3 separate regions of the Homo sapiens genome follow, and regions 1 and 2 are each linked to region 3. The links come from fine-mapping of genetic effects on gene expression. A gene starts in region 3. Each other region holds a variant in brackets. All regions are shown on one strand. Distances are from middle to middle. Region 1 overlaps ZHX2 (zinc fingers and homeoboxes 2). Region 2 overlaps ZHX2 (zinc fingers and homeoboxes 2). Region 3 holds the start of ZHX2 (zinc fingers and homeoboxes 2).

Region 1 (2,756 bases), 190 kb before region 3:
GTCACTGCAACCTCCACCTCCTGGGTTCAAGTGATTCTTGTGCCTCAGCCCCAGTAGCTGGGATTATAGGCACATACCACCACACCCAACTAATTTTTGTATTTTTAGTAGAGACAGGGTTTCACCATGTTGGTTAGCCTGGTCTCGAACTCCTGGCCTCAAGTGATCCGCCCGCCTCGGCCTCCCAAATTGCTGGGATTACAGGTGTGAGCCACTGTACCTGGCCTATTTTTATTTTTGAATCGCTGTCTACATTCAACTTTGCTGAGTGGTAAAGAGAATTAGCGGAATTTTGGAGAGGTGTAAAGTTATGGAAAATCTATGGCCCCTGCTCTCAGCTTGGGGGAATCGACAAGCTGACCAAATGAATCCGAGAGCTGTGTGGTGAGGGCTATGTGCAGAGAGGGTGTCATGGGAGCCCACAGGATGGGGGACTGAGGGAATCCCCCAGAGAAGGCCAGGCCCTTTTGAATCTTGAATTTTTCAGTGTTTCCTGTATTTTGGGAAGTGGGTCTTTCCCGTTATCTGTAGAATAAACACATGCTAAGTTTAGATAAACTGGCCAAAAGTCTGTAAGTTCCCGTAAAAATGAACCATCTAGACCAGAGGTTCCCAAGGTGAGGAACTTGTTAGCAATGCACATTCTCGGTTCCCACCCCAGACATGCCGATCAGACAGTCTAACCAACCTTCCAGGTGATGCTGGTGCCCACTCATGTTTGAGAACCACTGGTCTAGACGAGTGTCAGGTGTGAAGAGTGAGGGACTCTTTAAACCTCACCAGGGCAGAGATACTTAAAAGCCACCTTCTCAGAGAAATGGCAGTGCCCCAGCTACCACTCGCCAGCAGCCCAGGGAGGGGGAGCGACTTAGCTCAGGTCATCCAAGGGCGAGCCTGTGCACAGAGGGGCTTCTCATTCCCACTCTGAAGCTCTTCTCTTGACTATTTTATGAATCTATTTGTGAGACCCGGGAGAAGGAAGGGCCTATACCTTCCTTCTCTGTGTCGATGAGATCTGCTGAAGATTCCTACAACACTTACATCCAGTTTTTTTTCGGTGGGGGGAGGGAGGGGACAAAGTTTCACTCTCGCTGCCCAGGCTGGAGTGCAGTGGCGCCATCTTGGCTCACCGCAACCTCCGCCTCCTAGGTTCAAGCGATTCTCCAGCCTCCTGAGTAGCTGGGACTACAGGTGCACACCACCACACTCAGCTAATCTTTGTATTTTTAGTAGAAATGGGGTTTCACTATGTTGGCCAGGCTGGTCTTGAACTCCTGACCTCAGGTGATCCACCCGCCTTGGCCTCCCAAAGTGCTGGGATTACAGCGTGAGCCACTGCGCTGGGCCTACGTCCCATTTTTAAAGTCCAGTTTGCGATGTCAGATCCCTCCAGGATGGAAAATGAATTTGAAACGGGAGGTATCCAAGTCAGAACCCTTACACCAAGCCCTCGGGAGCCAGACGACAATAAAGAAGGCGAAGTAGAGGAAAAGGTTATAAAAATGTTTAGTCTTTGCTTTATTGAGTTACAACAAATGAGCAACAAGTTAGAAAAATTGGTTTTATTCAAACTTCCTAGCGTTTGACTTGTGCGG[T/C]GTACTCAAATGGGGGGCAGTGTGGGACGGGGAGGGATTGCAACCAGAGTTCATACTGCAACACGTACACCAGATATGTCTCTTGGTTTTCCTTCTTTTAAAAGTTAGGACTAACTGAAAAAGTGCACTCAGGTATCTAAAATTGTCCCAAAACAAACACACACACAAACAAAAAAAATCAATTCATGGTGAGGCTTTGAGCTAAAATCTTGTCAAATACCACACCGAGAAAAGGCAGTGAAGAAGAGAAATGAAAACCAAAGCCATTCACCTCTGTACCCTCCAGATAGGAAGATCTTATTGTTGTTGTTTTAATGTCACAATAGTACTGATCATGCTAACAGAGGCGGGAGCCTCTTCTGCTGGTATTTAGAAAGGTGCTTAAAGAAGTCAGCCACCTGCTACCCAGTTCTCCCAGGGCTGGCTGGGCACAGCCTGGCCCAAGAGGCCGAGCAGTTGAGAAGCCAGATCCCCTCTTGGCAGTTCAGAAAGCCTTGTGTGGGGCTAAGGCAGGGACCCCCAAAAAGGCAGCCAGGGGAAGAACTGGAAAGGAATTTGATTTGGAAGATCTGCCGTCTGTCACCTCTCTCCAAGTTGAGACAGGGGCCTGGATTTCAGCCCTTCCTGCCGAGAAATCTCCCAAATTTCAACCTACCTTTAAAAATAAAGTCTCCCTACTTAAAATCCAGTAGATATCATGGCACTAATGCTAACACCCCTTTCCCCAAATTAATAAAACAAAAATAAAAAAAAGAAAAAGAGAAAAGAGAAAAGCAAGGTGGTTAGCCCTCCCTCCTGAAAAAAACCTTACAATGGTAGTGCTGGAAAAGGAAGTTGCCCTTGATTAAAAAGGTAACAAAATTCCCACATTGTACAAATCGGTTCCAGTATAGCAAGAGGTGAGGGCTAGGGCAGAGGAGCAAACTATGTACAAGGACCCATTGAAAACGCAGTAGTAGGACTTTGGCACTATGAACAATTCCCACCGGTCCTCTGGGAGGTGCGTCTGAGAGTCGCTGGACTTCCCGCACCCTCCAGGCACACGCGAGCTAAGTAGTTCCACTTGGAGTCACTGGCAAGGGTGGCCCATGGCTGGGGAGAGACCATCTCTTCTTTCTTCAAAGACGGAGCGTCCCGTTGATCAGCACAGCAGTTCTAACA
Region 2 (2,756 bases), 56 kb before region 3:
CTCATGGGTGAGTGAATGATGGGGTGAGGGAAGTTGGAAATGTTCAGATTTTGTCCATTGCTTGTGCAACCTGCTCTGTTCTCTGTTAGCAATAGAATACTTGGCTGAATGGAGTGCGGATGGGCCCACAGAGAGCAATGCCACATTCTAGTGTGTGCCCAAGATAAAAAAAGAAGGAAGGGAAAAAAAAAGTAATGAGGGTATAGTGGGGTTCCCTGCTCCAACATATAACTTCTATAATCATACACGAAAAACCCTTTGGAATACATGTAGAAATGAAAGAAAGAAAAATAATAATTTCTGATTTGATCTCTAAAGATCTCAACTTTGTTAACATTTTGCTGTAATTTCATCATGCATTATGTGTTTTTCTTAAATAAAAACTATATATACAGTATGAATCCTGCATTTTTCATTTAACATTTACCACTTTAAAAAAATCACATTGGCCAGGCATGGTGGCTCACGCTTGTAATTCCAGCACTCTGGGAGGGCAAGGCGGGCAGATCATGCGGTCAGGAGTTCCAGACCAGCCTGGCCAACAGGTGAAACCCCGTCTCTACTAAAAATACAAAAATTAGCTGGGTGTAGTGGCACGTGCTTGTAGTCCCAGCTACTCGGGAGGCTGAGGCAGGAATGAATCGCTTGAACCTGGGAGATGGAAGTTGCAGTGAGCCGAGATCGAGCCACTGCACTCCAGCCTGGGTGACAGAGTGAACTCTGTCTCAAAAAAAAAAAAAAAAAAAAATCACATTACTAAATACTGTAGACTTCATATATGATCGAAAGGTTTCTACCACGTATTTAACCATTTATTTATTTAATTGTTTAATTATCGTACTATTCACCTCTTGTTGAACCTTGTTTTCTTTTCCCAGTTTTCTGCTGTATAAACACGCTGGGACTGACATGCCTCGTTACTTCTTTTTGGAGAAATAACAATAAATCTCCAAATCTCAGAGTAGAACATGTAATGAGTTTCTCTTACATAGACAAAGGGCATGTGAGGGATGGGCACACGAGGAATATTCGCCAGGGTGTCTGTGGTGACTTGATGTAATACCATTTTTAAACGTTCCTTGATACCCAGGAAGTGCCCCTGGCACCCCACTGTGCTGTGCTTTCTGCTCTCTTCCCACAGCTATTTGTTTTTGTAGAAGATTCTTCCCTTGCTCTGCAAACTGAGAGCACTTGGAGAGCTACAGAGATGTGCAGCCACTGGGCTAAAGCACACCCAGACGGGGCTCTTATTAGAAATGCAAATCTCCTCTCTGCTGACAAATCCCAAACACAAAGCTCAACGGGCTCTTCCACCCTCCTCTCCCCTAAGCGGGTGGCCTCTGTCTTCCATGTTACCTGAATGAGCTGAAAGGGAGTTGGCTGGGTTGTGGATCAGTAATCTGAGAAGGAAAGGGTCTGTCTGAAATGGAATTGTCTCCCCAGTGTTTCCATTTTACCCAATAAGAGGAAGTCAGTCTCTTTCTTCTCAGCCTTAACTCTACTAAAAGCCATTAAGCACCGACAAAGACAGGAGACATTA[T/A]CTGTTGGCAAGTGTGAATGCTGCATTCTGTACCTCCAGCAGGGATGGAAATTGAGCTGTTTACTTGGTGGCCACCCCAAGGGACTGAAATGAAGCTCTAATGTGACAGCATTTCTGAAATGCCAGTTTTAAATCCCAAATTCTCACCCTCTATTCCCCACCTGTAAAACGCACTAGGAATTTGCACTATTAGCACTATTAATTTAGCCGAATTACACCCTGACTAGATCTGACCACCAGATGCAAATGAAGTCACCAGTAGGTGACCACAGTAACCTGGGTCTGGTTTTGGAAAGGAGGGTGGGTGTTTGAAACCTGTAGGGGTAGTGGCAGGACCAGCTTATGGAATAACTTTCCTTATTACAAGTGACTTCCAGGATGGGGCTCACGATTAGAGATGGGGGTCTGGAACCCATTGCTCAGATGGGGTTTCCTTTGATGGTCAGTAATACAGTTACTGGAAAGGGGTCCAGATCTAGATCCCAAGAGAGGGTTCTTGGATCCTGCACAAGAAAGAATTCAGGGCGAGTCCATAAAGTGAAAGCAAGTTTATTAAGAAAGTAAAGGAATAAAATAATGGCTACTCCATAGGGGTTGCCCATTTTTATGGTTATTTCTTGATGATATGCTAAACAAGGGGTGGATTCTTCATGCCTCCCCTTTTTAGACCATATAGGGTACCTTCCTGACGTTGCCATGGTGTTTGTAAACTGTCATGATGCTGGTGGGAGTGTAGCAGTGAGGATGACCAGAGGGTCACTCTGGTCAAAATCTTGATTTTCGTGGGTTTGGGCCAGCTTATTTACTGCAAGCTGTTTTATCTGCAAGGTCTTTATGACCTGTATCTTGTGCGGACCTCCTACCTCATCCTGTGCCTTAGAATGCCCTAATTGTCTGGAAATGCAGCCCAGTAGTGTAAGATTCTCCCTGGGGCCTGAAAGCTTAAGGGGATGAATAACTCCTCCCTTCTCAGGCCCAGTACCAAGGCGCAAGCCTTGCGCCAGCAGTGTGGGCCAGCAAAATAGCAGAAGCAGGAAGAAAGCCGGCCGGAAGACACCTACCCTGGCTGGAAGACACGTACCCGTGAAGATCAAGAAAGAGGCCATCCAGGTACAACGTAGCAGTTACGTCAGACTAGGACACTTCCTGTTTACAGGAGACTATAAAATCTTTGCCCTGTCCTCACTTGGTGCTGATGCCATTTTAGGCCTCAGCC
Region 3 (2,756 bases):
CCAACTTTCCGCTCATCTTCGTCTCCGCAGCCTCCTGCAAAGCGGCTGGGAAAAGGGCAAGTTTGCAAAGCCGAGGATACAAGTCCTGGGGAAGCCACAAAGAAGCTGCAACACCAACAAAGATTAACCTCTTGTGGGGCAGACGAAAAGCGCCAGCTGCCGTTCAGGGGGGCGAACGTGGGCTCGGGCTGGCAGAGGCTCCGGCCAGCTGGCAGCGGACAGCAGGGCCGGGGGTCCCGCGGCCGCCCTCGGCCCCCCGCCCCGCGCGGACTCCCCCTGCACCTGAGCGGGGGTGAGGACAGCGCCGCGCTCCGGCCCTGCCCCCGCCAGGTAGCTCGGCTGCCGCCCGCGCTGCGCGCCCGCTGCCTGCAGCCGCCGGGAGCGACGAGAGCAGAGGCAGCCTCGGCCCACGGCGTCATGCTTCCTGCCACCACATTACGGCGAATCGTCACCGGGAGAGGGGAGCGAGGGGAGAGGGGGAGGGAGGGGAGCAGACACACGCAGCCCCCCGCCTGCCAAAACGCGCGGAGACGGGGCCACGTCCCGGTGGAGTCCCCGCGGGACCTGCCCCGTTTGCACAAAGCGCCGCAGTTTGGCCAAGAAGGGAGGGAGACGGCCACGAAATAAATAAATAAAAACAGTCGGGTCTACGTAACGCCCTGTCGAAAGCGGACGCCATATTTTTTTGTGGCTTATGTCGACATAGGGAAACGTAGACATGTTTTTCCTCCTCCTCCTCCTCCTCCTCGCTCTGGCTCCCATTTATCCAAACTTGTAATCAAAACTCTTAAAAAAAAAATCTTCTTCCCTCTCTGTATCCGCTCATTTCCTCCCACCCGCAAAAAGAGCCTGCACACCCCCCCCCTTCCGTACCCCCCTTCCAATCACAAACCCGGCCAAGTCCCATTAACAACACATTTTCGGGAGCCGCGGCGGCGACGGCGGCGGTGGGAAAGTTGGGCTGGAGTGGCCGGCGCCCGGCGTGCGGGGTTTGGGGCCGGCGGCGCCGGCTGGGGGGCTCCGCGCCGAGGCGAAGTTTCTTACCTGCGCTGGGGCTGTGAACGCGGGGACCCGGGCTGGGAACGCGGAGACGCGGCACGGGCGTTCCAAAATGGAACTCTGCTGGCTCCCCCCACCCACTCCCCACTCCCCACCGGGCGCCCGGCTCGGGCTCCGTGGGAAAGAGGGGGAAAGCCAGCCTGCCAGCCAGACAGACAGACAGAAAAAGCCCCCGTACGGAGAACGATGGCCAAAATTTTTAAAAGAAAAAAAAAAAGGAAAAAAAAAGGGAAAAAAAATGCCTCGATCAGTGGGGAATCTACGCCAAAACCCACATGATCTGTAACGTCAGCATGCGTATTTGCATACGATACCACCACCCGAGCTGCCACCCGGGCTCGGGTTCCGCAGAAAGTTACAAAGTGAAATTCAGCCCCCTCCGGAGACACCGGCGAAATGTCATTTTTCAGGCAGGAGCTGGGGGGGAGGCTAGCCCTAAAGGCGCTGGTTACTGGCCAAGGTAGGGGGGCAGTAAATTAACTTAAAAGTCTGAGCCCAGTAACGGACTCGGTGGAATTTCTGCGAGAAGAGGAGGGGGAGGCGCGAGCGAGATCATTGAATATTAAGCACGACCCCGCGCGGCGGCCGCGGCCAAACCGTCTCCGTGCAATACCCATTTTCTTTATGAAAAGTTCAAGGTGTCACTGATGAGCTCAACAAACTGTTGATCTTGACCACGTGGAGTGGCGGACCGTGGGACCGAAGGGCGCGCTTGCAGGCCCGGCTCTGGCGGTACCCGGGCCCCGGGACCCTTTGCGTGGGACTGTGCGCGGGTGGGGCCACCACGCACCCTGGGCGCTGCCTGCGCCTTGGCCCGGCTTCAGGCTCAGGAAAATAATAATAACGATTTTAAAACTATGTTGAGCGAGACACATTTTACTCCCGGAATGATAATGAGAAGGCTCGGCGTAGGGAGGGGAAGAAGGAGCCCCCCACTTATATAACGACTTGAAGTTATATCACTTTTGCTTGGGGAGATTCCGGGATTTCCGCCCGCGCCAGGTCTGAGGCTGGTTAAAGATCTTCAAACTTTTTTCCCTTAAGAGCCAATAAACAAACAGACGCCCCAGGGGCCGACTTAAACTCTGGTAGAGCCCGAGTTCGCTGGAATTCTCAGATTCGAAGAAATGCACACGCCTGCGGTGCTCGCAGAGAAGTCCCTCGGAAGCTAGGCGGGTCGCTTTCGCAACTGGGACTCCAATGTTCCCAGTGGGAGCGGAGCTCTCACCGCGGCAGCCCCCAGGTTCCCCTAGGCGCCTTAGAGCAAAGGTGGCGGGGGATCGCGCTGCCCTTCGCCCGCCGGCTCGGAACCATGAACTTGTATTCCGGGCGCCGCGCTCCTGCCACAGTGCTCGGCTAAAGAGCTCTAAGGAATTCGGGATCTGGGTACACTTCGGGATCTCAGGCGGCAACCTGTCTGCGCCGCGCATTCCTGCCCAGATGTACCTTGTTTCCCCCTGGGCTGGCCTGTGGACTCTTGGGCAGCTCCCGGGCGGGGACGAGGGGATGCGGTCTGGGGGCTAGTTTAGAAGCTTCGAGCGCAGCGAGAAAACAAAGGGAGCCTGGGGCTGGGAGGCTCTGCGGAGTCCCCGCCCGCCCTGCAGATTAGCAGGCGCGTCGCGTCGGGGCTTCCCGGGCAGCTCTGCTCTGGGGAATTAGAACGAACTCTAGCGGCCGTTTGCAACTCGGCTGTGGGC

The links. PIP is the estimated chance that this variant, and not a neighbour inherited with it, causes the effect.
Region 1: its variant is fine-mapped to the expression of ZHX2 in whole blood (TOPMed, PIP above 0.99). The same link has a PIP of 0.9 or more in CD4 T cells and neutrophils.
Region 2: its variant is fine-mapped to the expression of ZHX2 in caudate (GTEx, PIP above 0.99).

The regions. Positions count from the first base shown.
Region 1 is chr8:122,973,249-122,976,004 of GRCh38, reverse strand. ZHX2 (zinc fingers and homeoboxes 2) reads right to left here. Exons shown (of 4, transcript NM_014943.5): 4 at 1,495-2,756. Among named protein-coding and RNA genes, the nearest start is that of DERL1, 68 kb to the left of the region's middle. The variant T/C (reference allele first, on the strand shown) is at 1,596.
Region 2 is chr8:122,836,566-122,839,321 of GRCh38, reverse strand. The region is part of intron 1 of ZHX2 (zinc fingers and homeoboxes 2); the gene reads right to left. Among named protein-coding and RNA genes, the nearest start is that of ZHX2, 56 kb to the right of the region's middle. RefSeq lists enhancers at 873-1,704, 2,352-2,756. The variant T/A (reference allele first, on the strand shown) is at 1,541.
Region 3 is chr8:122,780,235-122,782,990 of GRCh38, reverse strand. It overlaps ZHX2 (zinc fingers and homeoboxes 2), which reads right to left and starts at 1,336. Exons shown (of 4, transcript NM_014943.5): 1 at 1,045-1,336. ZHX2-AS1 (ZHX2 antisense RNA 2) reads left to right here and starts at 1,387. Exons shown (of 2, transcript XR_007061082.1): 1 at 1,387-2,756. RefSeq lists enhancers at 1-19, 675-724, 1,892-2,391, 2,392-2,756 and silencers at 205-334, 555-624.